5 separate regions of the Homo sapiens genome follow, and all the other regions are linked to region 1. Evidence: fine-mapped expression QTL. A gene starts in region 1. Each other region holds a variant in brackets. All regions are shown on one strand. Distances are between the middles of the regions.

Region 1 (5,892 bases):
CTACCTCTTCTTCTCACGACCTCCAAAACTCTGCTGAGACCGGCCTCCCTCTGCCTCACTTGTGGTGATTTTCTCTCGGATGCTCACTTTCTCTCTGTGCAATCTTTCCTTTGGGTGTCCCTTGTCTTTAAACATGTCTGCGTATACCTGAACTCTAATTGTGGACAGGGTTCAAAGTTCTTTTTCATGGGATTCATGGGCCCCATGAAAATTAGAGGCTAAGTAGGCATCTAAGTAGGAGCATTTACGTGCTCCCAGGCATTCTGTTACACTTAAAGAGGCTCATGGAAGAGATTTGGGCAAGTGGTATAACTCTACAAGCTGCTATATTCAAGTCCTAGTTCCAGCTTAGCCAAAACACCTACTCCGATTGCAACTGATCTTTTTCTTGGTTGCTAGAAAACTGAGAGTCATATGTGTGGCCTACCTCCAGCAAACCAATAGGACCTTACACCATGCATTTTGCATACAAAACTGCTGGCTTAATCTTATCTTTCACACTCACGGTTTTCTTTTGTCCTATTTTTCTCTGTACTTATTTTTAATTTACCCTGATGTACACATTTATGTAAACTACGTTAAATCCTTTCCTCTGGAATAAAGTAGGGTGTAAATAAATTTAACAAAACAACAAAGAGTGATGATGAGCCAGGTCTTCACTCCTGAAGGCCTCAAAACGAACTGGCAGTGATCTGTGAAAACTACAGAGAACTGCCCGTTCATCTCCACAGATTACTGAAGTCTGTGAAAACTACTCCAGCCAGGACCACCATTATAGCCTGCTGCCTGTTGTGTTCACAATCGATGCACAAACTCAACCCTGAAATGGAGAGAAAAATAGGGGAAAAAAGACATTAGGAAATCCTAGCTCTATGTCATCTGGACATTAGAAAGCACTTGGTTGGACAAAGCTTTTTCTCCCCCACAGCACATGCCTGTTTCAGCATCTCAGCCCACATTCACGGAGAGGGAGAATATAGCAATTGTTAAGAATGCAGACTCTAGCACTGCATGCTCTGCTGTTTATTTGTGTTATTTGGGCTAGGTTTTTTAACCGTCTGTGCCTCGGTGAATCCCATCTACAAAGTAGAGATAATAATAGTACCTACCTCACAGGGCAGTTGTAAGGATTAAATGAGGTAACCCGGGTGTAACATTTAAAACAGTGGCAGAGTACATACAGGGATCTGAACAAATGTTAGCTACTATTAGTGATATGTGAGTGGGGGAAGCACACTGCCTTGGACTTGAGGCAATATCAAGTCTGAGTTTCTGGAAAAACACTTGTGGAATAAGTAAGGGCTGGCCACCTCCTAAAACCGGACAAAAGATCTGGCTTGCCTAGATCCTTAGCGTGACTGCTTCTCCTCCTGCCTTTCTAGAGGCAGTATTACGTGATGGAAATACTTGGTGGGTGCTGTGGGCACAAAGATAAGTTAATGTGTTTTTATTCCCTAGGAGCTGAGTCGAGAGTAGGAGAAAAATGCATAAATAATTACCAGGTAGGATGATTAAGCAATATACTGGAGGCAGCAACAGAAACACACCGTGGAAAAAAAATACCCACGGCGTGGATGAAGATATGAGATGTGTGAAAGCGCTAGACACAGGCAGCCACCTGCACCCATGTAAAATTGGATTATTGCTGACTCCTACAAGGCCCACTTTAACGCTTCTTTCAACCAGAATCCCTGCAGAACTAATTTTGTAGAACCGCCGGGGATAAAGACCTTTATTTGCAATGTCGAACTCCAGCAGAGTAACCCCTTTTGCTTTCCACACGCGCAAACCCGGGTCCCAAACGCTGCAGTTCGCGTTTCCCGGCTAACGGAAGAAACACGAGGAACTGTTTGCAGATCTAGGGGATGAAGCCAAAAAACGGAAAGCGAGGCCGAAAGGGCGCAACCACCACGTCTGGAGGAGGCCAGTGAAGTAGAGAAAGGGGAAGGTCAGCCCTGCCCCAGCGCGCTCTGCGTAACCGGGACTTCCTCCGCGCGGCAAAGCCGGGGAACCTCCCTGGCGCCTGCGCCACCGTGGCGAGACTCGGCGCCGTGGACGTGGAGAGAGGGCGACGCACCTGCGCGAAGACGGCAGCGGGAGAAGCCGCTCCAGTGCGGTTGCGCGGCGGCCCAGGCGTCGAGGGGAGCCTCGGCGGGGAGCGCACCGCGCGCCTGCGCGGAGAGCTGCGTGACGCGGCGGCGCGCAAGGGACGTGCGGAGTGAGTGGCGCTGCGGGTGGGGCCGTCGGCGGCGCTGGTGAGCTTTGCGGAGCTGGGCGGTGCCGAGGAGGAGGAGGTGGCGGCCTGGGTCTGACGCGGCCCTGTTCGAGGGGGCCTCTCTTGTTTATTTATTTATTTTCCGTGGGTGCCTCCGAGTGTGCGCGCGCTCTCGCTACCCGGCGGGGAGGGGGTGGGGGGAGGGCCCGGGAAAAGGGGGAGTTGGAGCCGGGGTCGAAACGCCGCGTGACTTGTAGGTGAGAGAACGCCGAGCCGTCGCCGCAGCCTCCGCCGCCGAGAAGCCCTTGTTCCCGCTGCTGGGAAGGAGAGTCTGTGCCGACAAGATGGCGGACGGGGAGCTGAACGTGGACAGCCTCATCACCCGGCTGCTGGAGGGTGAGTGCGCGCCTGGCCGCGGGACAGAGGGAGGTCGGGCACCGCCGCCGACCCCTGCGTCCCCGTCTGCCGCCGGAACGCGAGGGGACCCCTTTCCCGCCCCGAGACGAGTCTCTGGGAGCGCGGCGCGGCGGACGAACCGAGGAGGGGGCGAGGAGGCTCTGGGCGCGGGGGAGCGGCCTCTGGGAGCGCGGTCAGGGGAGATCGGGGGAGAGGGGGCCGTTCCCGCGGACCCTCGGGGGCCAGGCCCGCCGGCCGAAGGCTGTGCGGAGCGGGTCTGCGGGAGACAGCCTTTCGGAAAGGCCGCCGGGCTCCGCGCGCCGTGGTGCTCGCCTCCGGTGACCCGAGGATGGGGAGAGGATGCCTGCCACTGGGCTTTGTGCGTCCGTGGAATCACTGTTCTTCTCTGTTCTCTTTGTGCATTGCCCTTGGCTGCCTCCGATTGTCGTTCCGGGAGTGAATTTTACGTATATATATATAAACCTGTCCTTAACAGGACTGCTTCGTCTGCTCTGCATTTTTACACAATGCTATATAGAATGGATTCTTCTTAAAGAGAGGATAAAATTAGCGGGAATTAATCTACCGTTTGTTACTTGGCCTAAAAAAATTGTAAGACAAGATATTTGATCAGGTTGAAGATGCACCTAAGAAATGTGATGTATGTAGATGGGTTTGCTGAAGGGATTGGCTTTTGCATTTGATTTGAGCAGAGCTTAATTTCTGCACAAACTTAGTGAAAATCTATTTTTAAAGCCTGTCTTGTATTCGAAAGGTATTTGTAGGTCTACGCAGCATTTGAACTTTCCGGGCTCAAGTGTTCTTATTGAATAGTTTTATGTTGGTGGGAAGGCAAGGGGGGAAAACGAAGAGGTGGACTAGCCGGGAGTTAAATGTATTGATTCATTGCAGGATATTATTCAAAGTTAAATGCAGTCTTCTGCCAAACAGTCCCTCTACCCTAAAGTTTTCGTCATCAATAATTGTTTTGTGAGTGTGTAGAAAAGCCTTTAATCCTTTTTAAACAATTTAGAGGCCTCTTTGTTAGCCGCCGTCCAGCGATTGCATATGTACTGTTTGCTTTCAAATTACCTTAAGATAATTGCTAGAGTGAAGCAGTATGTACTTATATTTGGAAAATCATCAAAGAATATTGTAATGGGGGAGGGGTAATTCCTTTTTCTCAAAGTATGTGTCGGTATCTCAAACCCAAGTTCTGTGAGTACCTGTTCTGTAACTAAATACTGTGTATTTGCTCCAGATGTGAAAGCCATCCAGCAGTCTTAAGACTGAATAGGAAGCAAAAGTTTTACCAGGAACTCTTATTTACCTTTTCCTTTACTATCAAGTTATTCCTGGGAGGCCCCCTGGTGCCTGCAGTCAGTGTTCACTACCTAAGACTTTGTTTCAGATGTGAACATCTTGCTGGGTCTTTGAGAAATTTGCTTTGAAAATAATTGTATTTTGTAACTGTTTTATGAGGGAAATACAGTTAATTTAAAAATGTGTATGTCTTGTTTACATTTGGGAAGTAGAGGCCTACTCCTTTTTATTTTTTTTTTATTTTTATTTTTTGAGACGGAGTCTCACTCTGTCGCCCAGGCTGGAGTGCAATGGCACGGTCTCAGCTCACTGCAACCTCCGCCTCCCGGGTTCGAGCGATTCTTCCGCCTCAGCCTCCTGAGTAGCTGGGATTACAGGCACCCCGCCATCATGCCCGGCTAATTTTTTTTGTATTTTTGTAGAGACGGAGGTTTCACCATCTTGGCCTGGCTGGTCTTGAACTCCTGACCTCGTGATCCACCCGCTTCAGCCTCCCAAAGGGCTGGGATTACAGGCGTGAGCCATCGCGCCCGGCATATTTTTATATATTTTAAACTTTGCTTGTAAATTTAAATATTTTAAAAATATGTTTGTATCTCAATTTATTTATATTTTATTTCATTTTCCATATATTTTGTAGGCATAAAACAGATTTATGTTTTAAAATGTTTGTATCCTTTTAAATTAGACGCACCTTTATATGATTACAGGTACTTAAACTTCACGAGTGGGTTGTGCAAGGTTACTAGAAAAGACACTGGGGGAAAAATAAGTGATTCCATTTGTTTTTGTGAATTCAAATTAAATATTTGGTTTGTACAATCTGTTTTCCTTTTTTGGGGGGGCGGGGGGGGGGCGGGTAAGAATTGTAGTCCAGATACGTTTCTCTCTTAATTTAGCAAGCGTTAACAAGTTGACCTCCTCCTTGCCAGGCACCAGCAATCCTAAGATAAGACACAGTCTCTTCACTCAAGGAGCTCCCAGTCTAAACAAGTGTCTTTCAGGCTTTTTCAGCCTCCTCTCTGTCCTATGTTCAGCACACATTCTATCAGTACTTCTTCATCCTACAGAAGCATATTTAGTTTGACAGTGCCCCCAAGGGATTCTTAAATATTCTAGGTTTTTCAGCTCCTTCCCAGATCCAGACCTGTTGAAAGACTTGTCCAGAGCAGACTTGAATTTTCTAGTAAATAATTATTTTTAATCTTCAAAGAAAATTTTGTCCACCTGGATTTTCAGTGATATTAGATGCTAGTTAGTGATATTTTGTAAAGCTGCCTAGCAAGAATAACTATGGTTAGTGTTTTTAGTGTCAAATGAACGTGTAAGTAAAAATTTGGCAAGAATTTCTCTGCATTAGGGGAAAACATTCAGCAGGACCTGATCTCATTTTAAAATGCTGATTGTAGCCCCACAACATATTCCTGATTGTTTTTTCTTTTTTACTGTATTAAATCGCAGATCAGCTATACACACTTCTGGTGACTACATTTTATGAGTTGCTTTTTGTTTTTCTTTTTTAGGTGGGCGTATTATTGATAAGTTTTTTTTGTTTTTTGTTTTTTTGAGACGGAGTTTTGCGCTTGTCACCCAGGCTGGAGTGCGGTGGGGTGATGTTGGCTCACTGCAACCTCTGCCCCTGCAGGTCCAAGCGATTATTCTGCCTCAGCTTCCCAAGTAGCTGGGACTACAGCATGCCACCACGCCCCGGCTAATTTTGTATTTTTAGTAGTTTCACCATGTTGGCCTGGCTGGTCTCGAACTTTCCATCCTCAAGTGATCCACCCGCCTCGGCCTCCCAAAGTGCTGGGATTACAGGCATGTGCCACCGCGCCTGACCTTGATATGATATTTTCAAAGAGTCCTTTAGGTCATTTTAATACAAACATGCCATTTAATGTAAAACAGAAATATTGATTTTATTATTTGGACGGTGCATATTCTTTCGGTATGTTTTC
Region 2 (5,892 bases), 300 kb before region 1:
TGTCTGGACAAAAAGGTGTCTGTTGAATAAGTGAATGAATGAACAAATGAATGAATGAATGATTCTTAGGCTGAGGCTGCTGACACCGAGGCATTCATGGCTTCCTACATCCGTTGGTGCCACTGTCTAATAGAAAATTCACCCGTGTATACCATGTATACCAAGCTGGGATTGAAAGTCCATCTCCGTTCTTAGCTTGCAGACTGGGACTCCACTGCAGAGAGAAACTGGGCTGAGCCGGAAGGGCCCTGCAGGTGCTGCTCAGAGCATCTTCCTCCACTTTCCTGCTGGCTTGGGCACCAGGAACTCGGCTCTGCGCTTTCTGTTCTTTGTAGCATTTAATCCTTACACCAGCCTTGTGAAGTAGATGTTCTTATTACCTTTTACAGGTGAATCAACCCAGGCTTAGAGAAGTGAAGTATTGTGCCCAAGGCGCTAATATCAGAGATACAACCTATACCCAAGTCTGTGGGACACCGAAGTACGTGCCTCTAAGACGTCACCACCTTGCCTTTTATGTGGCCTTCTCTCAAGAAGAGGACTTAGAGGCTTGGGGCGTCCAGTTTCTGGAGGCAGGCAGGGCCTCCTGTGGCCTGATCCATTGGCTGGAGAGGAGTCAGCAGGGGCTGGGGTCATGGCATTGTCCCAGTGGGAATGGAAAGTTTGCCTCCTGGAGGCGCCCCCTCTGCCCCACGTCTGATTGCGGGCAGAGTCTTGGACGGGGCAGTGGCACATTCAGAACCTCTGGCCAGGCTAGGACCATGAGAAGTGGGCTTTTCATAGGTTACAAGCCCTGTGGCCGTGGGAGCAGGCGGGGCAGGGACCCTGGTCAGCCTGATTCACAGGCCAGGATGCTGCCACCTGAGCCTTGTAACTGAGCCCTCGTGGCTCCTGAGGGTGGGTTAAGGAGGAGAAGGTGTTCCGAACCGGAACTCCTAACCAAGGGCTCTATCAGTCCTTCCACCTCCTGCTTCCGGCCCGCCCCACACCTACCCCCTGGAGGGCCGTGGAGTTTCTTTGATGCACGGCCTGGCTGTTTTTCCAGAACGTGGTTCATTTGCAGTCCCAGCCCATCGGGAGAGCGGCCTGAGAGTCTGAGGGCTCCAGCCCAGGGGAGAGGCTTGCTGGGGCCTGGCTGGGCTGAAGTGGTGGAGAGGGGAGAGGCCAGGCCCAGAACCTCTTTTTCCCTCTTGTGTTCCCAGGCCGGTCAGGCTCCTGCTGGGCGATTGATGGAGGTGAGAGGATGTGGGCTAGGGCTGGGTCTGGGCAAGGGCTCTGTGAGGGAGCAGGGTTAGGCACTCTCCCCCGCTCCCCCCACCTGCCTCCCACCTCCACTCTCTGCAGATAGCCCTTGCCCCAAGGCTGCAGCCCAGTTGACATCCCTGAGCCTGGGCCACCAAGCGCAGCTCCCTTGCGCCCTCTAGTGTCTGCCCCTCTCAGGTACAGGGTGCCTTGGGCCAATCTCTGAACCTAGAATTGACCTTCCAAACCGGGCCATTCCTAAGCATGAGGTGGACTCTGTTGACAATGATGCTGGGCAGCAGACGCAAAAAGAGACTGGGCCAGCTGTCTTTTCACTCCACTCAGGTCAGAAGTGCCCCCTCCCCACTCCACTGTGGTCCCCAGAACCATCTCTGGGAACCACCCCATTTGTAAATGAGATAATGCATGTGACGTGCTTAGCAAGGGGCTGGGAGAGTAGGGGACCAGTGACTATGTGGTCAATGAACAGCTATTAGCTCCACTAGGTAGAAGCAATGATCTGTTTGGTCCTGTGCTGGGGGCTCGTTTCCAGGGGGGAGGACAGAGAAGCTCTGTCCAGTGCTGCTGAGGCAGGAATGAGGACTCCATGTTCGGAGTCTGGCACGGAGCAGGAGGGTGATTTGATGGCTCGGTGTGTGTTGGCTGCAAGAGCAAATGCAAAACGTCAGCCTGAGATTAATCAAGACATCCTTCCACTTACCGTTTCGGGTCTTGTTGGGGAGTTTGGAAGGAAAACTGCCTTTCCAGCAAGATGTTTTGACATGATGCCTTTTCCCTGGCATGCGTTGTCTCCTTCTCCCCACCCATCCCCTTCGCCACAGCTTTAGGGATGACCTCTGCCCTGCTGGGTGCCCTTGATGACTAACACAGCAAGTGTGTGGACCGCCACCTGTCCTGGCCTCACCCACCTTCACCCTCCATTTCTTCATGACTGCCCCCGTGGCTTCTAGGGGGAAGGCCCCAGACAGGTTTGCTAAACTACTGACTCCCAGGGCTCCCTGACAGGGCCTGATGCAGGGTGGCCAGCGGTTGTGACCCCTAGACCAGGTGGGTCCCAGCACAGGGACCTGAGCCCCACCCTCAGGGAGCTGGCGGCTACACGGGGAGCGGTCACCTGTACAGATAAATCTAGTGGAAAGCCCCCATGGCCAGAACCAGGGCGGAGGGCCTGGGGCAGGCTCTGGAGTATAGAAGAGGGAAGGCGCCTTTGGAACAGACAGCAGAGAGAAGAGCCTGCAGGATGAGTGCGAAGGATTGCTGTGGACAGAGGTGGGCCAGGGCTCAGCTCGAGGGCTCCCAGGGAAAGGAGCCTGGGGTGGCCTGGGCACCGTGTGTGTGTGTGTGTATGTGTGTGCGCGCGCGTGCATGTGCGTGTGCATAGGTATGATTCAGGGAGACATAAGGGACTTTGGCAAAGTCAGGAGGATGTGGGGGCTAAGCAAACACCACTTTGAAGACTTCTCTTTGGCATGGGGTGTGACAAGCCAGGTCTGGTGCCTTGTTGAGGAAAGGGAGAAAACTCTGAGTTGGTTTTTGTGTTCCTCAAACCAGTTTGCCCACATCCTTGGCATCATCTGTGCCCTGTGAAGGGCCCGCTTGGAGCCATGCATGTCTGGGCCTGAGGGTGGCGGTGCCTACGTGAGGCCCTGCGGTCTCTTCAGGAGCTCCCCGAGAGGGGCACTTGGCCACTGTTGGAGCTGAGAGGGGCCT[G/C]GCCCAGCTCACCCGCCTCTCCTGCTTCTCACCCAGCCCCTGCTGCTGAGAGCTCTGGCAGCCTCCGTGTGCACAGCAGGCCTGGGCTCAGTCACAGGTAGCTCTTCTGTCTGCTCCACGGTGGCTCTCCTCAGGGCCTTGGCTCTCATGTGAGGCTTCCAGCTGCTGCTCACACTCAGAGCTTTGCATGACCAGCAACACACAGGCAGATAAGAGCATTGGGTCTAGGGCGAGAAAATCCTGGGTTCAAGATCAGGCTCTGCCATTTACCAGCTATGTGGCCTCAGGCAGGTTGAACTCTTTGAGCCGCAGTTATCTCATCTGTAAATTGGGGATAATAACACTTAATGGTACTTATCTCATGGGGTTGTCATGAGGATCAAATGAGATGATGTGTGTGTAAACACCTTACAGAGGGCTCCACTAATGGAAGGCATTATTATTGCTGTTTCCATACCACACGACACTCACCCAAGAATGGAAGTTCATGTTCTGACTGTCAATGACGTGTCCAGCATTCCTCCTGTGCTCATTTCATAACTATTCGTTGAGCCTCCTTGGTGCCAGGCACTGTTCTAGACTCTTGGGCCATAAAAATCAATAAAACACAAGATCCCTGCCTCCTTACGGCTGACCTTCTAGGGGAGAGACTTTCACATACCCCAATCTACTTAGCACACATTCCAACCTCTCTCTGGCATCTGCAAACTCAAGTCTGCAAGGTGAAGCAACATCCTAAGCTGCTAGGAACTCTCTCCATAAGTACTCATCCAGATGGCCTGGTGATACGGACAGGAGACAGGGAAATACTGGGTAGAAGAGGGTGGCTCCTGGCAAAGGCCCCACCCTCAAGCCTGAAGACCCACGGCCCTAAATGAGGACAGGCATTCCTGTTTTTGAGCGGAAAAAGTTGCCTTTTGGCCTGCCACACCCCCTATCCTGCACCCATATAAACCCTGAACCCCAGGCTTCAGAAACAGACGAGCAAGCCAGCAGACCAGCAGACGGACAGTGGAACGATGCAGTAGAGAAAGAGAGAGGAGGAGGAACATCTGAACATGGAGAGGAGTTTGACTGGGGACGGTCAGAGAGGAGTCCGGCTGCTGGGCTCCTGACTCCAGGGGAAGATCACCTTCCTACTCCATACCCCCCTTCTGGCTCCTCATCCGTCCCACTGAAAGCTACCTCTACCATTCAATAAAACCTCGCATTCATCCTTCAAGCCCATGTGTGACCCAGTTTTTCCGGGATGCTGGATAAGAGCTTGTGATACAGAGAGCTGTCACACTGGCCCTCTGCCCTTGCGAAAAGGCAGAGGGTCCATTGAGCTGGTTAACACATGCTGTCTGCGGACAGCAAAGCTGAAAGAGCTTTGTAACACTGGGGTTGCAGGCACCCACCTTTAGACACTACAGTAGGGCCAGAGCCCAAATGGCTCACCCTGGCCTCTGCACCTTCCCATCTGCATGCTCCACCTCCTGAGAGGGATTTGAGCAGCAGGGGTGACCGAAAAGGCAAGCGGCACATCCTGAGGGGGATCGGGGACCTCTCCTGTTTCACTGCAGAAGTCCTTTCGTGGCAAAACAAGGTCATGTTGAGACAACACTCAGAGCATTGTCGTGAAAAGGGAGCACAATCATTAAGAGTAGTTGCCCATTTTACAGATGAGGAAATTGGGGCCCAGAAAAGTTTAACTGCCTTGCCCTAGGTTATGCTGCTGCTCAGTAACAAAATAACTTAGTCAACAAATATTTGCTGAGCCCCTATTTTGTGCCAGCCACTGCTTTGGGCACTGGGGCACAGTCAGTGCCTTAGTGGAGCTTGCATTCTCTAAAGGGGTGACTTAAAATAAATATGTAAACAGGTGAGCTCATTTCAGACATGATGAGTGCTAGGCGGAAAATCATACAAGATAATGGGAGGGACAGTGACTTAGGAATGGGGTAGTTGGGGAAGGCCTCCGGGGAGGTGACACTGAAGTCAAGGAACCAAGCAGAGGACACTTCCGGTGGAAGTTATCCTAAATGGTGACCCAGATAAGAGACTCAAAGGATTCCCTACAGCTCACTTAAAAGGCAAAGGAGAAAATGTGGCTGTGAGTCCTCCTAGGGAGAGCAGGGGTTTCTGAGCTGTGGCCTGAGGAGCCAGGTGGCCCTCCTTGTAAAACAGAGCTCAGGGCATCTGGGGATCCTTTTGTTTTGTTTTCTAATAGACTTTATTTTTTAGGTTCATAGCAAATTTGAAAACAAAGTATAGAGAGTCCCCATATACCCCTGCCCCTACATGTGTAGTACATTCATTAAATCAAGAACCCACATGGATGCATCATCACCCAAAGTCTATATTTACATTGGGGTTCACTCTTGGTGTTGATGTCCTATGAGTTCTAACCGAAGTGTGATGACTTTATCCACTGTCACAGCATCTTAGAGTAGTTTCACGGCCCTAAAAATCCTCTGTGCTCCGCCTGTTCATCCCTCCCTCCCCACAACCCCTGGCACCCACTGGTCTTTTTGCTGTCTCCGTAGTCTTGCCTTTCCCAGAGTGTCATATAGTTGGAATCATACAGTATGCACCCTGTTCATACTGGCTTCTTCCACTTAATAATATACATTTAAGTTTTCTCCATGTCTTTTCATGGCTTGGCAGCACATTTCTTTTTAGCGTTGAATGAAATTTGCATTTTCTGGATGTAGGGGCTTGATATGGTTTGGCTCTGTGTCCCCACCCAAATCTCATCTTGAATGATACGCCTGTAACTCCCACGTGTTGTGGGAGGGACCCGGTGGGAGATCATTGAATCATGGGGGCGCTTTCTCTCATACTTTCCTTATGGTAGTAAGTCTCATGAGATCTGATTTTTTTTAAATAGGGAGTTTCTGCTTTCGCTTCTGCGTCATTTTTTTCTTGCTGCCGCCA
Region 3 (5,892 bases), 280 kb before region 1:
CATAGATACAGAAAGGTGAGGCATATAGAGGGCAAACCTCCCAGCAAGTCAGGACCAAAGCTGAGGTGACATCAGGCTCCTGCCCTCAGCCCCTGAGCTCTTTCTTCTACAGTAGGGCTGGGAAAGAAACATGTGAACCTGGGGTGGGAGCAGCGGGCACTCAGAAGGTGTGGGGTAGTAGGGGACCCAAAGGGTCTTATGCACACTGAGAGGAGTGTGAATATGCCTACATGTGCCATGTGCCATAGCACACGTTCTTTGGAGAAGGCACAAGAGATTCACCAAGTCCCACAGGGATGTAGGGAGCTGTGTAATAATGTGAAACCCTCCTTGGAAATTAAGCCATTCATCAATTCACTCAGCCATTTTGCTAATTTATGAAATGCAGACTTTGGGCCATACCCCGCACCTCTCCTTTGGGGGAGGCAAAGGAGCAGAAGCCAGGCTGGCTGCCTTTTTGGAGCTTTCAGCCCTGGGTAGGGAGAAGAATCAGGCCCACATCTAATCAGGAACCAAAGCAGGACCAATCGAGTGGCAGGTGAAGGGCTCAGGCAGCAAGGGCTTGGGGGTTCAGACACCAGGGTGGTTAGAAAGAGCTTCATGGAGGCAAAGGGCAAGGAGAGGATAGAGTCAGAAGGTGGAGGTCTGGGGCCTGGCCAACAGGCAGAACAGACTATCAGATGTAGTTTGGGATGTCAGGAGAAGGAGCCTTCATTTCACTCCTTCCTTGTACCAATGGGAGGAGTTTAAATTCTAGGTCTTCTTAAATTTTTTAAATTTTAAACATTTTTTGAGACAGGGTCTTTCTCTGTCACCCAGGCGGGAGTGCAGTGGCAGGATCATGGCTCACTACCTCCCAGGCTCAAGGGATCCTTCCACTTCAGCCTCCTGAGTAGATGGGACCACAGGCACACAGTCCAACTATTTTTTTTTTGTAGAGATGGGGTCTCGCCATATTGCCCAGGCTAGTCTTGGACTCCTGTTCTCAAGCAATTCTCCTGCCTCGGCCTCCCAAAATATTGGGATTCTAAGTATGAGCCACCTCTCCTGGCCTCTAGGTCTTAATCTACATTCTAATTCATGGCTTTATTCACTTCAACACATTTTTATTGAGCAGCTACTCAGTGCTGCGCTGCTAGGTGCTGGCAACTGGGGCTATAGAAAGGCAAAGTTCTCAAGGACTCCTGCATCTATACAAAGACAGACCTATGATCCACAAAAGACTGAGGATCAGGGCTATTCTGGGGGCACAGGGTGCCAGTGGGCCTGGCCAGAGGAGGGACACCAAGGAAGTTAGGGGAAATGGCAGGGTGGTTTTCCAGGGGCACGGATTGCATTTGAAGTAAGAGTTATCCAGGCGGGGGAGGAGGGAGGGAAGGGGGTGGTCTCTGCTGAGAAATTACCGTATGCAAAGCCTCATAAATGATGAGTGCTGGGTGCATTTAGTCTAACTGGAGTATGAGGCATAAGGGCATGGTTGGGTAGAGGGCAGGAAAGGGGGCTGGGAGATGAACCCCAGAAATGTCCTTTCCATTTGTCTGGGGGCTCCGGGAGGCTGCTGGACTGCTGATTAACTAATTCCCCAATAAGCCTTCAAGTGAGGCCCAGTCCAGCTGGACAAGAGCTCCCCTTGTCACTGTGTGTGGTGACACCTCTGATTTGCCTGGTCATTTAGTTCTTCTCTTAGGAAGAGGGCTGGATAAGGAGAGACTCTGCTCACCGCCTTGAGTGGGTTCTCTTTGCTTTGAGTTGTGTGGACTTCTGTGAGTAGACACCTACTGTCCTGGGGGAAGGACAGGCATGATGGGACGGTTTGGACCCCGTTCTCACACGTTCCTTTGCAGGTGGAGCTGGAAGGCTGCTGGGAAGGAGGTGTCAGCTGTGCAGTGGCCCTGAGCAGCCTCAGGAACCTGCCTCCTGCTTGCTGGGGACCATGATTTCTCACATCTCTAAGAGATGAAGGCAGATCCTCTGAGGTCAGCTGGTGGGAGAGAACCCTGGGGCCTTAGGAAGGAAACTCTCTGAGCCTGGGAGATGCTGATCCAGTGCCCCTGGCCTAGCCAATCAGGGCCACTCTGGGTGTGCTGGAAAGAGAGGCTTCTCTTCTCTCCCCATCCTTGGAGGGATTTTGGCTGGATACTGGCCAGCAGGCATTGCCTTAGTCATAGTGATGGCAGGGAACTGGGACAGCCCTGGCTGTGTGATTTCCACAGCCACCCCCACAGGGCCTCA[A/G]TTCTTCAGTTTTCTATCCCAAGGGGACTAGTTGGAAGATCACTGACTGCTTAAACTGAGTAAGTCCCTGGGGGAAGGTGGATTTATGGAAGAGCAAATTCTTGAAAAGGGAGAGCGTGGGCTAAAGCCATGTATTTATTTACTTATTTATTCATTCAATGTTTTGTTTTTTCTTTACTTGTTTAAAAAAAAACACTTCATCTCTTTGAAAAAATAGAAATAATACAGAAATCAACAAAGCCAGAAAAATGTTCCCCCTTGCGGGAAGGGTGAGCTACACACCCTGCCCACAAATAGAATGGGAAATGTATAATTTCCTGAAAAATGGAGCTAAAGCAGGAAAATCGAAGAAGAAGAAGAGGAAGAAGAAGAAGGAGGAGGAGGAGGAGAAGAAAGAGGAGGAGGAGGGAGAAGGGGAAGTGGGATGAAGAGGAGGGGGAAGGGGAGGAGGGGGAGAAAGAGGAGGAGGAAGGGGAGGAGGAGAGGGAGGAGGGGGAGGGGGAGGAAGAGGGGGAGAAGAAAGAGGAAGAGAGCAGGAGAGGAAGAGGAGGAGGAGGAGGAGGAAGTGGGAGGATATCCTTTCAAAGTTTTTGTTCTGTGCATACAAAAATATGAACACCTTAGGCCTCTTCCCATGCCAATAGTGTAACTCCACCTGGCCTTTGGCACCATTCATTCTGTTTGCACAGCACGAGAAGAAGGTCTGTGAGGAGCAGCCTGGCTGGTGGGCAGGTTCTGTCAGTTGCACGAGCACAGCTTCTTCTTTGGCTGTTATTGGGGGTCATCTCTGCTCAGCCAGGCCTTTCCCTGTCCAAGGTCACTCTGCTGCAGGCACAGGAGGAACCAGAAAAAGGCCAAAGTGGTCTAACACACAGGGGTGAGGTGTGAGGTGAGGTGCTGGGCTGGCCTCAGGGTCGGAAGGCAGGTGCTGGCAGAGAGGCGTTTGTTGGCTTTGGGCACTTCCAGCCACAGGAAGTGTTTGTTCTTTTCAGGACAGGGGAATCCTTATTTCCATTCAACAAAAACATTTTGTATAAGACCAAAAGGGGTGCAAAGAAGAGTTCTAATTGAGAGGAGTTTGCCAGCTCTAAAGAACGTCCAATTTGGGCGCTGTCAGAGAGACTCAGAATGTTCTGAAGCTCCACAGTTGGTGAGAGGGGACCAGAAACACACCCCAATGACAGGCACTCCTGAGGACAGACCAGGAGCAGGTGCTGTGCTGAGCACTCCATATACCTGATTCATTCCATTCTCACCTCTGAGCTAGGGATCGTCCCCTCCTCTCATGAACTGGGAAAGTTTATTACTCATTGAACAGACTCAGAAGGATGTGAAGTGACTTGCCCAGGTCCACATGGTTGGAAAGTGGCCAAGCAGGAATTAAGGGCCAAGGTCTCTGACTCCAAAGTGCACCCTTATGTGCATTTTGCTCTGAGACAGGTGGGGTTCGAGGTGAATCTGGAGGGCAGGAAGGGACTTATCAGGTGAAGGCAGGAGGAAGGCCTTCCAGGCTGAAGGTGCAGCTGGAACGAAGACACAGAGGCAGCGTGGCCCTAGAACTATGTGGCGGGCTCTGAGGGAATCTTTCAGGTTAAGGCTAGAGGGAGGGCTTGGGCTCAGGATGGAGGGCCCTGAGGGTCTGGGAGAGGGGCATGTGACCCTTCCAGAAGGCCACAGGCATCATGGGTGAAGGGAAGAGGCCCAAGCTGACAGCACTGAGGAGAAGCCCGGTGATGAGGGGAGGAAGGGAAGAAGCCAATGAAGAGTGCAGGAGGAGGAGCCTGCTGGGATATGGGCGGGAGCCAGGGCGGGGGAGGATCTGCCTCCCTCATGTGGCCACCACAGTGTTCTCAGGGATGAACTGCCTAGAAAGGCTTGTCCCAGGCTGAAGGTCCAGCTGGCAGAGCCCAGGGAGAAGCCCAAGGGCACCCATCATGCCAGCGAAGAGAGCAAGAGGCCAGCTGTGAGGGTGACAGGAAGAGGGAGAAAGGAGTTTGTGAACGGTTCAGGTAGGAGATGACCCTTTATCGATTTGGTTGTGGGGATGGAGAAGGGTGAGGTGTGATAAAAGCTGCAGTGCAATGCTTGGATCCTTCCCACAGCCCCCGCCCTGGCCAGGATGTGCTGTGTGTCTGTGTATCCAGGCATCCTAGTTAGGGCTGAAGGGACCCTCCTCGGGGAACATGTTCCTACAGGATGACATCTGTCCAATGTGGTTTTGGACCTGTGGTGCTGGCTGGTCCTGGGCCCAGGTCTGTGGGCCTGGATGGAATGAAGCAGCCACACCTGTGTCACCCCATCTCTGGGAAGCCCCACCCCACCTGGTCAGACATGCCAGGCCAACCCCATACCCATCTTGTCATACCTGAGCTCCATGCCGCTGCCCCAGCTCCTCCAGCAAGGGCACATCACCCTTTCAAGGCCTCCTCCAATCTCCCCTCCCCAGGCAGCTGCCCCCAGAGTCCCACTTGCACTTGGTGCCTCTGTGTACATTTCCATGCACTTTCCTGTTATGTTTCTAGACTTTATTATTTTCTGAGTACGTTCATCTTATCTCTCCAGAGATGATGAGATCCTTGAGGGCAGGCATCACATCTTGTCTCTTTTTTGTCTTCCACATAACACCTAAAATGGGTTTGGCTCACTGAAGGCCCAACACTCACAGAATGTTGAATGAATAGGAATTTCCTTCCACCCACACATGGGCCCTGTGGCTTTGGGGGTGTGACCCCAAAACATGCCCATGGGATGTGGTGAGATATAAGTGAAGACAGGGGCCCAGGGAGGATATAAGTGAAGACAGGGGCAGGGACGTCTCCTCCATGATGGTGCTCTGGAATGATGCTCAGCAGGGGAGGGACCTTGGTGATGATCTCTTCCTCTTTACTGATGGACAAATAAAAGTCCCAGTGAGAGGTGACAGCGTGCTGGCAGCCCTGGCAGCCCTCAGCTCATTCTTGGTGCCTCCTTGGCCTTGGTGCCCACTCTGGCCACGCTTGAGGAGCCCTTCAGCCTGCCGCTGCACTGTGAGAGCCCCTTCCTGGGATGGCCGAGGCCGGAGCTGGCTCCCTCAGCCTGCAGGGAGGTGTGGAGGGAGAGGCATGGGCGGGAACCCGGGCTGCACGGCGCTTGTGGGCCAGCTAGAATTCTGGGTGGGCGTGGGCTTGGCGGGCCCCGCTGGCCCCGGGCAGTGAGGGGCTTAGCACCTGGGCCAGCAGCTGCTGTGCTCAATTTCTCTCCGGGCCTTAGCTTCCTCCCTGCAGGGCAGGGCTCGGGACATGCAGCCCGCCATGCCTGAGCCTCGCCACTCCCCCACCATGGGCTCCTGCGTGGCCTGAGCCTCCCCATCGAGCACCGCCCCTTGCTCCATGGCACCCAGTCCCATTGACCGCCCAAGGGCTGAGGAGTGTGGGCACATGGCGCGGGACTGGCAGGCAGCTCCACCTGCGGCCCCAGTGCAGGATCCACTGGGTGAAGCCAGCTGGGCTCCTGAGTCTGGTGGGGACTTGGAGAATCTTTATGTCTAGCTAAGGGATTGTAAATACACCAATCAGCACTCTATATCTAGCTCAAGGTTTGTAAACACACCAATCAGCACCCTGTGTCTAGCTCAGGGTTTGTGAATGCGCCAATCAGCACTCTGTATCTAGTTAATCTGGT
Region 4 (5,892 bases), 78 kb before region 1:
TGTCAAGTAAAGCTGAGAGATCAAAGGAAAGGGGAACTAAGGAAAGATCATCAGGGTTGCAAAACAGCAGGTCATCAACAACAGTGGAGGCGAAATTTTCAGCAGGAGTGGGGCCAGGGTTGCTATATGCAGTAGTGTGGATTATGCACTGCACAAAGTCAGCAATCTACAGGGCACGTGATATGGTTTGGCTGCGTCCCCACCCAAATCTCACCTTGAATTGTAATAATCCCCACATGTCAAGGGTGGGGCCAGGTGGAGATAATTGAATCATGGGGGCGGTTTCCCCTATACTGTTCTCGTGGCAGTGAATAAGTCTCACAAGATCTGATGGTTTTATAAGTGGGAGTTCCCCATGGATGAAGCTGGAAGCCATCATCCTCACCAAACTAACACAGGAACAGAAAACCAAACACTCCATGTTCTTACCCGTAAGTGGGAGCTGAACAATGAGAACACATGGACACAGGGAGGGGAACAACACACACCAGGGCCTGTCAGTGGGGCGAGGGGAGGGAGAGCATCAGGACAAATAGCTAATGCATGCCAGGCTTAATACCTGGGTAATGGGTTGATAGGTACAGCAAACCACCATAGCACACGTTTATCTAGGTAACAAACCTGCACATTCTGCACATGTACCCCAGAACTTAAAGTAAAATAAAACTTAAAAAAAAAAATAAATGGGAGTTCCCCTGCATACGTTCTCTTGCCTGCCGCCATGTAAGATGTTCCTTTGCTCTTCCTTTGTCTTCCACCATGATTGTGAGGCCTCCCCAGCCATGTGGAACTGTGAGTCCATTAAACCTCTTTCCTTTATAAATTACCCAGTCTCAGATATGCCTTTATTATCAGCATGAGAATGGACTAATACAGCATGGCCCCCTTCACAGATTGGAGATTTATGACAATCTTCCAGCCAAAGGGAGAAAAGCATCTTGAAGAATGAGTCCCGTTTCATAACTGGCACAAAGATGCCTTATGGGCTAGCAGCAGCCTTGATGGGGAGAGAAGGCATATGACAAGAAGGTTATAAATGAGTGGCTAGGGAAGAAATGAAAGCTGTGTATTTGCAGTTCCTATATGGGGATATGTATTATTTATCGATTGCTGCATAACAAACTACTTCAAAATTTAGCAGCTTAAAACAACAACACATCTCACCTCACAGTTCTGGGGGTCAGGAATCTAGGAGTGGTTAAACTGAGTGATTCTGGCTCAGGGTTTCTGATAACATGGCAGTCAAGCTGTTGGCTCGGGCTTCCGTCATCTCAAGACTCAACTGGGGCTGAAAAATCCACTTCTGAGCTTACTCTTTGGTAAGTTGGCAGGTGTCAGTCCTCACAGGCTATTGCACTGAGGATCTCAGTTTCTCACCACGCTACGTGGGCCTCTCTGTAAAGTTGCCCACAACATGGCAGCTTGCTTGCCCCAGTGCGAATGATCTGAGAAAGAGAAAGAAGAGGAGGGCAGGGGAGGAGAGGGAAGGGGAAGGAAAGGGAGGGAAGGGGAGGGAAGGGAAAAGGAAAGGAGTGGATACCTGATACAGAAGCCACAGTCTTTTTATAACCTAATCTCAGAAATTGTGTCCATCCCTTTTGCTGTATTCTATTTGTTAGAATACGTGTATAGCTCAAGGGGAGGGCCTTACACAAGGCCATGAACACCAGGAGGTGGAGGGCATTGGGGGCCATCCTACAGGCTGTGTCATCAGGATATATAGGCTCAACCACTCTTTCAAAAGGCAAAATCTTTCTCTCATTCTGGGGGTGAAATCATCAAGATGCAAACAAAATTCAGGAAAAGTGGGAGGTTACTATGAATCCAAATGTCAAAGTCAAGGGTAGAGACTGACATGAGATCAAAGCAAAAACATACAAAAGACTTAGCATCTGAATTAGAGAGCCATGGCTAATGCTCACTGTAAACCAGGACCAGGGTGTGCTCCAGTTAGTGACATGGTGGCTGAATTGAGCCAGATGGCAGGAAAAATGGCCATTGGCTGCCCCTCAGGGAAGGCCTCATCATTGGCTGCACAAGGCTTTAGCTTTGGTGCCCCAAGTGAGTTGCCTGCACCTACCTTATGTGGGTATGAAGAAAGCTCATGAAGGCTGAGAGGTTTCTAACCCAGAGTGAACAGCCTATGCAAAAACATAAAGAGGCATTAAAGGGAAACAAAGAACTTCACAGATGGGCACTGCTTCTGCTTTCTGTGTGGACAGAGCCTATCACGCAGAGATATGGAGGTAAGAACACACCAGATCAGCCAGTAACAGGTAGGACCTGTTCCCAGCACTTCCAACATCCAGGGCCATCCAGGCTTCCCAAAGGGCTGGGTTTGAGGCTGCAAACTATTCCTAGATATGCAAGTCCTATATGGAGAACTGCCCCCTTGGCCCTCCCTGACTCACCCACCATGAGACTCTATGCTTTCTTTTAAATTTCTGGAGCACGGAGAAGCACAGAGATGAAAAGAGTTATTTTCAACTTGGAACATATCATGATATGACAGCCAACTCTTTTGTATTCTTTTAGAGGTTCCTGGAATTTCTGAACTGCTCCTGAGTTGACTCAACTTCATAAATATTTATTGAAGGCCTGTTATCATGATGGGTCAGCTCTAGGCCATGGTTGCTTCAGATGAAGTGAGCCAGAAAGAAGGAGAACTAGGAGGTAGACCAAGCTGGTGAGCATAGTGGCAGGAAGTTGCCATGCCCGAGATTGTAGTTGGGGGCCAGTTCATCAGGGAGGTTACCATGAATCCAAATGTCAAAGTCAAGGGTAGAGACTGACATGAGATCAAAGCAAAAACATGCAAAAGATTTAGCATCTGAATTAGAGAGCCATGGCCAATGCTCATCAGTTCCAAGAGAAAAGGGAAAACACTGCCTAGCCCGGGCCAGAGGGTAGCAGCCTGGAGCCAGCATCCAGTCCTGAGAGTGGGGGTGATGTGTCACTTGTTCAGCATCCTATCCCCAACACCCAGCACACTGATAAATTTAGGTGCTCAAGCCAGGCAAGGAGAACACAGGGGTGTGGTCAGCAGTCATCCATGTAGGCTCCCATAAATCAGGATTTGGGATCCAATTTGGGATGAGCATCAGGAAACAAACAGGGAATGGTTTTCAGACACAGAGACTGGGAAAGGCAACTCAGGATCCAGAACAGATGAGTAGGGACACCTAACAGCCCGAGTTATGAATGCTGATGCCAGGGCATTCCTAGGATTAATAA[T/C]AGAAGTATGATGGCTCACGCCTGTAATCCTCAACTTTGGAAGGCTGAGGTAGGAGGATCACTTGAGCCCAGGAGTCTGAGACCATCCTGGGCAACATAGCAAGACCCCTTCTCTACAAAAAATTTTTAAAAATTAGCTGGGCATGTTGGCATGTACCTGTAGTCCCAACCACTCAAGAGGCTGAGGTGGGAGGATCACTTGAGCCCACGAGTTTGAGGCTGCAGTGAGCTATGATTGTACCACTGCACTCCAGCATAGGCAACACAGCAAGACCCTGTCTCTAAAAAGATTTTAAAATAGGAAATAAATAATAAATTCCAGGATGAATCATTTTAAGCAGCCTTTCTGCTTCTGCTAGACTGAGGATCAAAGCCATGTCTGTCTTGCTTATTGGGTGTCCCCTGGCCTAGCACAGGGCCTGGTATGAAATGGGTGCTCAGTAAATGTGTGTGGAAAGAGCAACTGCTCCCAGAGAACAGTGGGAATCTGCAGGGGATGGAGCACAGGCTTAGGACTCAGAAGTCTTCAAGGCCAATGCTGAGGTAAAGATTGTTTTTTTTCTTCCAGGTTATAGGAAATCAAGGTTGGGGGGTGCCAGATTACAGATTTCAAAGAGTGACCAATATGATGCCAATGTATTCCACGTTCCTCACTCTGTCACCCTCCTGGGCCTCCTTCAGAGTAAAGCATAGGATAGAAATGACAACAGCCATTCACTTTTCTCAGGACCTAATCCCCAGATCGTGAATATACGTAGGCAGAAACCAAGCTAACAACTTCAACGTGGGACTGTAGAATATTCTCTCTACCCTTAACTAGGCAGGTGGCCTTGAGCAGATCATTTCACCTGTCTCTATCATAGCCCCAAACTATGTCCTCGTCTGTAAAATGAGAGAATTAGACTAGAAAGAAGGCTCTGGGGTTCTCTTTCTTTTCTGACATTCTGTAATTCAATTATTCTGGTTTGTTTTGAAGATAACATGGATTAGGATTGACCCACCATGAAAATATGCTGTGGTTCATCAGCTTCTAATGAGAACTGGAGTGGCCCTAAAAGAAATGCCATATACACACTCTCTCTCTCCGTTTCCATGGAGCTTGGTTCTCCTAGAAGCCTGTGTCTGTGGAGGAAGGTGAAGCATATTTCCTGTAGGCAGTTTCTCCTGTTTCCTAAGCCCTCTGGGGAAGAGGCAGCATGATATGGCTGAAAGCTCATTGGACTTGAAAATGGGGAGACCTGGATGCTCGTCCCAAACCAGGCATGTGAGCTTGGCAGTCCACCTGTCCTCTCTGGGTCTCCATTTGTTCGTATGTAATGGACAGAATACCTGCCCTGGCACCCTCCTAGACTGCTGTAAGCAAAAGGCTTCTGTAGAACATTAAGTGCTAAACCTATGTGTAATACTGCTGGGGAATCCATCAGAATGGCTGATTGGACATGAGAGAATGTGTGGGGCAAATGGCCCATACTTCAGAGGCACAAAAGACTTTTTTTTTTTTTGAGTTGGAGTTTCACTTTTGTTGCCCAGGCTGGAGTGCAATGGTGCATCTCAGCTCACTGCAACCTCCGCCTCCCGGGTTCAAGTGATTTTCCTGCCTCAGCCTCCCGAGTAGCTGGGATTACAGGCACACACCACCACGCCTGGCTAATTTTGTAGTTTAGTAGAGACAGGGTTTCACCATGTTGGTCAGGCTGGTCTCAACTCCTGACCTCAAGTGATCCACCCACCTCGGCTTCCCAAAGTGCTGGGATTACAGGCCAGCCACTGGGCCTGGCCAGGACTTCTTAAATATTTATACATTCTAGAAAATTAAGCTTCAAGCCGGCATTCGTGAGTCTGTCTGGTAGGAGGCAACATGACATGGCTGCCTAATTGGCAGAACCAGAGGAGCACGGTTCCAACCCTGCCGCTTACCAGCTGAGTGACTGTGTGCATAGCACTTTACCTCTCTGAGTCTTTGTTTTTTCATCTTTAAGATGGTTATAATATTCTTACCCTGCCTACTTCCCAAATCAGTCACCTTGATTGATCAAACATGATCAAGTGATCAACTAAGTCATGTTTCTAAAATTATGGCCCATTTTAAAGGGGCCATAGAAACTGGTCACATAAAATGGGCACTGATGCTCCTTGCAGTGTTAGGCACTTTGCAGGGGCGCTGAGCAATCAATCCTGCTGAGTCAGTGAGGCATAGCCCAGCCTGCAATGCCAGCTCTCTGAGCACACAGAATAGACAGACACCTACATGGGATGATCTGTGGGCAACTACAAGGCTTCATCTACCCCTAAAACTTTCCCTTCCTTCCCCAGCCTAGAGTTCTTCCCATTAGAATCACTCCTCCAAAGTATCTGTGAGATAGCTCAGAGCACAAAGGTCTCCAGGGTAGAGGCAAGTAGGGACTGGAATCCAACCCAAACTCTGCCCACCAAGGCCCATAACTGCCCAGAGGGAGGGCGCTTTTCTCTCATTCTTATGGGTGGCTTGCCACATGGGCCAGCATATACTTTGCCTGGAGGTTAGAAAACACGTTATCAGGGTTTAAATGAGCAAATGCTACCTGAAATGGAAGGATCACTCTTCTCTTGCCTCCCATTGAAAAATACATGGAGCTGAGCTCTGGGAAAATGAAACCCCAACCAGTGAATTTCACGTGC
Region 5 (5,892 bases), 71 kb after region 1:
CATGTTGTTTAGGAATCAGTGTTTCATAAAAGAATGTCTGACTTACACACTGGGAGCAGCGATGTTTCTATATTCTTTAGATTTTGTTGAATGGTTAAAATTTCAGCTTTGTCGCTCATACCTGTGATCCTAGCGCTTGGGATGCTGAGGCGGGCAGATCACCTGAAGTCAGGAGTTCAAGACCAGCCTGGCCAACATGGAGAAACCCTGTCTCTACTAAAAATACAAAAATTAGCCAGGTGTGGTGGTGCGCACCCATAGTCCCAGCTACTCGGGAGGCTGAGACAGGAGAATTGCTTGATCCCAGAAGGCAGAGGTTGCAGTGAGCCGAGACCGAGCCACTGCACTCCAGCCTGGGCGACAGATCGAGACTCTGTCTCAAAAAAATAATAATAATAAAATAAAATTTCAGCTTTGTATTTTTCAATTTTTTTCTTTTAGAAAAATATTTCTCGTGCTAAGAATTTTCAGCTTTGTAAATGCCATTTTGTACCAAGCAGTCATATTTGAAAATTAAGCGTGACTTTACATCACTACTAGCCAACAGTAAAGGGAATGAGTGGAAGGTTAGCTTGTGATTAAATACAAAGTACTGGGGTGAAGATTTTTATTTAAGCTTAAGATGACAGGGATACACTAGAAGAAGGTTTATAAAATTTTTTAAATTTCATTTTGGAAAATTTAAAACATACACAATTTGAAGTAAATAGAATAGAACAAAGAGCCTCCATATGCATCTCATCTAGCTACAATAGATCAACTGTGGCTGTTCTTGTTTCTTCTAATGCCTCTCACCAAAAACGATTATTTTGAAGCTGATCCCAGACATCCTAACATTTTATCCATAAATATTTCACAATATATCACTAAAAGTTAAGAGCTGTTTTAAAACAATTACAATGTCATAGAACTTTTAAAATTAACAGTAATGCTGTAATATCAAATATACAATTCATGTGGAGTTATGATGTGATTTTTTTTTTTTCTTTTTCTTTTTTTTTTTTTTTTTTTTGAGATGGAGTCTCACTCTGTCATCCAGGCTGGAGTGCAGTGGCGTGATCTCAGCTCACTGCAACCTCCGCCTCCCGGGTTCAAGCAATTCTCCTGCCTCAGCCTCCCAAATGTCTGGGATTACAGGCATGTGCCACCACGCCCGGCTAATTTTTCTGTATTTTTAGTAGAGATGGGGGTTTTACCATATTGGCCAGCCTGGTCTTGAACTCCTGACCTTGTGATCCACCCGCCTCGACCTCCCAAAGTGCTGGGATTACAGGTGTGAGCCACTGCGCCCGTCAGGAAGTTTTAAACTTTATGGTTTTAAGGTGCAGTAAAGTTGTTGTGCAGAAGGGGGCAGTGTTGGAAAAGTAACTACCTGGAGTACTGTCTTAACACGATCTCAAGAGTACTTTACTGGAAGTTACTGTGAAAACTTGGTATCACCTTTGTGGCAAATCCTGTTACAATAGGATGAATAAATGTCTTACGAGAGATAATCTGATACATTATTATAACTTGTTTTTAATTTGAACAGACAGAACCTGGCATATGTGCTAATAATCAGGCTAGAGATGTATCTTTCTAATAATACATTTAAAACACATTCTCCCCATGAAAATACAGCCATGTTATTCTAATTTCTGAAGTCATTTGGAAATCATTTTAAAAAGTTATTTTAAAAAGTGAGTATGGATGTCTGTAACTAAAAGGGTTTAGAAAAATTATATATACACATACATACACACAAATAGAGATAGCAAACATGGCAAATTTGGTGCATCTAAGTGAGGATGCATGGCTGTTCATTTTGCTGTTATTTCAGTTTCTGTATAGGTTTGAAATTTAAATTAGATAAAAGTGGGATTTTAGCTCAAACTATTGGCAATAATAAAATTTAGGAGTCCATTCTAGTTTATAATGATATAATAAATAGTCAAGAATTACTTTTCACTGTTCACATGGTGGATTACAGGAATCCAAAAATTAAGTACACAATTCTATAATAAGTAACACTTTATTGTTTTAGCTTATTCATCAGAAAATTTTAAAGTTAACTATTTTAAAGCAGTTTTATTTATGAAAGCAAAACATTAATATTAATTTTTAACTTTTTTCCTTATAGTATCTTTTGGCTATGACCTTTGTTTATTTCAAGAGGGCTAAATTTACTATAAGTGAGCATACCAGGATAAATTTCTTTATTGCTCTGTAAGTATACTTTCTACTAAGTGATTGTTGTGTTATCTATTATATACATTACACCTTATTTAAAACAGAGGCTATTTAAAACCTTATGTATATCTTTGAATAGGCCTTCCTGTATAAATGCTGTATGTTTTTTACTTTAATAGGATATTTTTATGTTTTTTTCACTTATCATGCTATATGCCTAAGATTTCCTT[T/A]TTTATTTATTTATTTATTTTTGAGAAGGAATCTCGCTGTGTTGCCAGGCTGGAGTGCAGTGGCACAATCCTGACTCACTGCAACCTCTGACTCCCTGGTTCAAGTGATTATCCTGCCTCAGCCTCCCAAGTAGCTGAGATTACAGCCACGTGCCACCACGCTCAGCTAATTTTTGTATTTTTAGTAGAGACGGGGTTTCACCATGTTGGCCAGGATGGTCTTGATCTCCTGACCTCGTGATCTGCCCGCCTCGGCCTTCCAAGGTGCTGGGATTACAGGTGTGAGCCACTGCGCCTGGCCAAGATTTCTTGGAGTATTCCTCTTCAATTTGTATTGCATGTTTTACATTTTTCAGAATGCTTCCATATAAATTATCCCAAATTCTCCTCTTTGTGACTTAGATATTTTTTAAAACCAGAATATTCTCTGAAATTTTCAATTAATATATAGTAAAAATCACCATCATCATTGCCCTTTTACATTGAACAACTTGTGGAAAATGCTCTAAACATAGTCTTTGTGGACCTATATCTATAACATAGTCATTATTCGTATTTGATACCATTGGTATTCACTGGCTCTTTTACTAAACACACTGAGCTGTGACAAAGGAATACAGTTGTTTTCCAGTTCTTCCACTGACTTTAGTTTATATTCATTGTGATCTGTGAAATGGTTTTCCAATCTATAGGTCAGAATACATTTGGAATTTGCATTATTTAAGAATATGTTTCTGGCCAGGCACGGTGGCTCACGCCTGTAATCCCAACACTTTGGGAGGCCGAGGCGGGTGGATCATCTGAGGTCAGGAGTTCGATACCAGCCTGGCCAACATGGTTGAAAGCCTGTCTCTACTAAAAATACACAAGTTAGCTGGGCGTGGTGGTGGGCACCTATAATCCCAGCTACTCGGTAGGCTGAGGCAGGAGAATCGCTTGAACCCGGGAGGTGGAGGTTGCAGTGAGCCGAAATCACACCACTGCACTCCAGCCTGGGAGACAGAGCAAGACTCCGTCTCAGGAAAGAAAAAAAAAAAAAGAGTATATTTCCTTTTCTACCCTATAGCTGGATATAATGCTGTAGTTGGGAATGCATGAATATATATATATATATATATATATATATATATATATATATATAAAATTTTTTTTTTTTTTTGAGATGGAGTCTCACTCTGTCACCCAGGCTGGAGTGCAGTGGCGTGATCTTGGCTCACTGCAACCTCTGCCTCCCGGGTTCAAGCAATTCTCCTGCCTCAGCTTCCCAAGTAGCTGGGATTACAGGCTCCCACCACCACGCCCAACTAATTTTTTGTGTTTTTAGTAGAGATGAGGTTTTACCACGTTGGCCAGGCTGGTCTCGAACTCCTGACCTCAAGTGATCCGCCTGCCTCAGCCTCCCAAAGTGCTAGGATTACAGGCGTGAGCCACCGCGCCCAGCCATATGAATATAATTTTAAGTGTTTACCTAGAGAACACATATAAAAAATATTTAAGTTGAATACCACAATAGCTGTCAGCACTGAAGGTAAAGTTTTTACTCAAAGTGTATTTAATTCAGAATCAAAGAGTTATTAAAGAAATAGGACTAGGCTGGGTACAGTGGCTTACGCCTGTAATCCCAGCACTTTGGGAGGCTGGGGCGGAAGGATTGCTTCAGGCTGGAAGTCCAAGACCAGCCTGGACAACATAGTAAGTCTCTACACAAATAAAAATAAAAAAATTAGCCAGGCATGGTGGCATGTGCCTGTAGTGCCAGCTACTTGGGAGGCTGAGATGAAGAGGATCACTTGAGCCCAGGAGTTCAAGGCTGCAGTGAGCTATGATCACCACTATACTCCAGCCTGGGCAACAGAGCAAGATGCTGTCAGGAGAAAAAAAAAAAAACAAAAAAAAAAAACAGGACTAGAAGAAACTGATTTCTTTTTTCTTTTTCTTTTCTTTCTTTCTTTTTTTTTTTGTGACAGAGTCTCTCTCTGTTGCCCAGGCTGGAGTGCAGTGGCATTATCTCAGCTTGCTGCAACCTCCACCTCCCAGGTTCAAGCAATTCTCCTGCCTCAGCCTCCTGAATAGCTGGAACTACAGGCGCATGCCACCACGCCCGGCTAATTTTTTTTTGTATTTTTAGTAGAGATGGGGTTTCACTGTGTTAGCCAGGATGGTCTTGATCTCCTGACCTCATGATACACCTGCTTCGGCCTCCCAAAGTGCTAGGATTACAGGCGTGAGCCACCGCGCCCAGCCAAAGAAACTGATTTCTACTTGTATTCAGGAGATATATTTTCCAGTGCACAGGGAAAAATGAACTCAAAATTTAGGATGATTGCTAAATATAATAGTATTAGGTAATACTGAGTACTATGTGCAAGGCACCACAAAAAATTTTAATGTAGTATTAACTCATTTAATTTTCCCTATGAAATAAATTTTTTATTATCCCCATTTTACAGATGAGGAAACTGAGAGGAAGATTAAGTACTTTCTAAGAACAAACAAGTTAGTAAGCAGCAAAGCAGGGGCACAAACTCAGGAGTGGTTATCAATGACCAAATTCAGCCATCAACCACTAAGTTAAATTGCTGTTTATATATCTCAGTATTGTATTGTATCTATGTTGATGCAATATTTATTTTGTGTTTTTTTTTTACCTGAGAATTAAAAACAAACCAAAAGAAGCTTTAGTTTAAATCTTACTAGATGCCTGAAATTGAATTCGTTTAACTTGTTTTATAAAGTTATTACCAGTAGAGCACTATTGAGTTTATGCAATACAATTATCTGTAAGGTTGTACTGCATGTTGTATTATGTAAGCTCCATATTAAAAATAACATGAATTATAATTTCCATTTTAAGACTAATCATACTTTTTGTATGGCCTCAATAGTTCTCCTCGTTAAATATTTTCTCAGCCATAGTTCTAAAGCTCAAGTTCTTTTCCTTTCTATACAGTCTTATAATGTTTCCTTTCTATGTATTCTTATAAGACTCTGAACTTCTATTATCATTCTTCCACATTACCTTTCACAATTATTTGTTTCATGCTTACTTGCCTTCTTTACTTAATTGTAGGCTCCTTATGGGCAAGGAACATATAACATTTTATTTCATCTTTCAATTACTAACATATAGGAGGTTCTTAATTTTTTTTTTGAGACAGGGTCTCACTCTGTCACCCAGGCTGGAGTGCAGCAGCATGATCTTGGCTCACTGCAACCTCTACCTCTAGGGTTAAAGTGATCTTCTTGCCTCAGCCTCCTGAGTAGCTGGGACCACAGGCACATAGCACGACACCCGGCTAATTTTTTATTTTTTATTTTTTTTTAAAGATGGAGTTTTGCCATGTTGCCCAGACTGGTCTCAAACTCCTGACTTCAAGCCATCCTTCCCAAAGTGCTGGAATTACAGGCATGAGCTGCACACCTGGCCTTCTGGCTGCTTTTAAGACCTCTTTTTCTTTGGTGTTTGGCACTGGTTTCTTTTTAATAACTTACT

What was found. PIP is the estimated chance that this variant, and not a neighbour inherited with it, causes the effect.
Region 2: its variant is fine-mapped to the expression of PPP1CB in whole blood (INTERVAL, PIP 0.90).
Region 3: its variant is fine-mapped to the expression of PPP1CB in whole blood (TOPMed, PIP 0.94).
Region 4: its variant is fine-mapped to the expression of PPP1CB in whole blood (TOPMed, PIP 0.91).
Region 5: its variant is fine-mapped to the expression of PPP1CB in whole blood (TOPMed, PIP above 0.99).

The regions. Positions count from the first base shown.
Region 1 is chr2:28,749,566-28,755,457 of GRCh38, forward strand. It overlaps PPP1CB (protein phosphatase 1 catalytic subunit beta), which reads left to right and starts at 2,265. Exons shown (of 8, transcript NM_002709.3): 1 at 2,265-2,611. The coding sequence starts at 2,560. It overlaps PPP1CB-DT (PPP1CB divergent transcript), which reads right to left and starts at 2,191. Exons shown (of 5, transcript XR_007086259.1): 1 at 2,078-2,191; 2 at 1-820. RefSeq lists enhancers at 1,678-1,887, 2,191-2,835 and silencers at 2,018-2,207, 2,698-2,917, 5,609-5,822.
Region 2 is chr2:28,451,246-28,457,137 of GRCh38, forward strand. No RefSeq gene overlaps it. Among named protein-coding and RNA genes, the nearest start is that of PLB1, 42 kb to the right of the region's middle. RefSeq lists enhancers at 485-998, 999-1,512. The variant G/C (reference allele first, on the strand shown) is at 2,974.
Region 3 is chr2:28,467,373-28,473,264 of GRCh38, forward strand. No RefSeq gene overlaps it. Among named protein-coding and RNA genes, the nearest start is that of PLB1, 26 kb to the right of the region's middle. The variant A/G (reference allele first, on the strand shown) is at 2,233.
Region 4 is chr2:28,671,994-28,677,885 of GRCh38, forward strand. LOC124907746 (a long non-coding RNA gene) reads right to left here and starts at 3,256. Exons shown (of 2, transcript XR_007086257.1): 1 at 1,165-3,256; 2 at 820-997. LOC105374384 (a long non-coding RNA gene) reads right to left here. Exons shown (of 3, transcript XR_939878.3): 3 at 5,046-5,892. The variant T/C (reference allele first, on the strand shown) is at 3,235.
Region 5 is chr2:28,820,206-28,826,097 of GRCh38, forward strand. It overlaps SPDYA (speedy/RINGO cell cycle regulator family member A), which reads left to right. Exons shown (of 8, transcript NM_182756.4): 5 at 2,120-2,205. Among named protein-coding and RNA genes, the nearest start is that of SPDYA, 12 kb to the left of the region's middle. The variant T/A (reference allele first, on the strand shown) is at 2,400.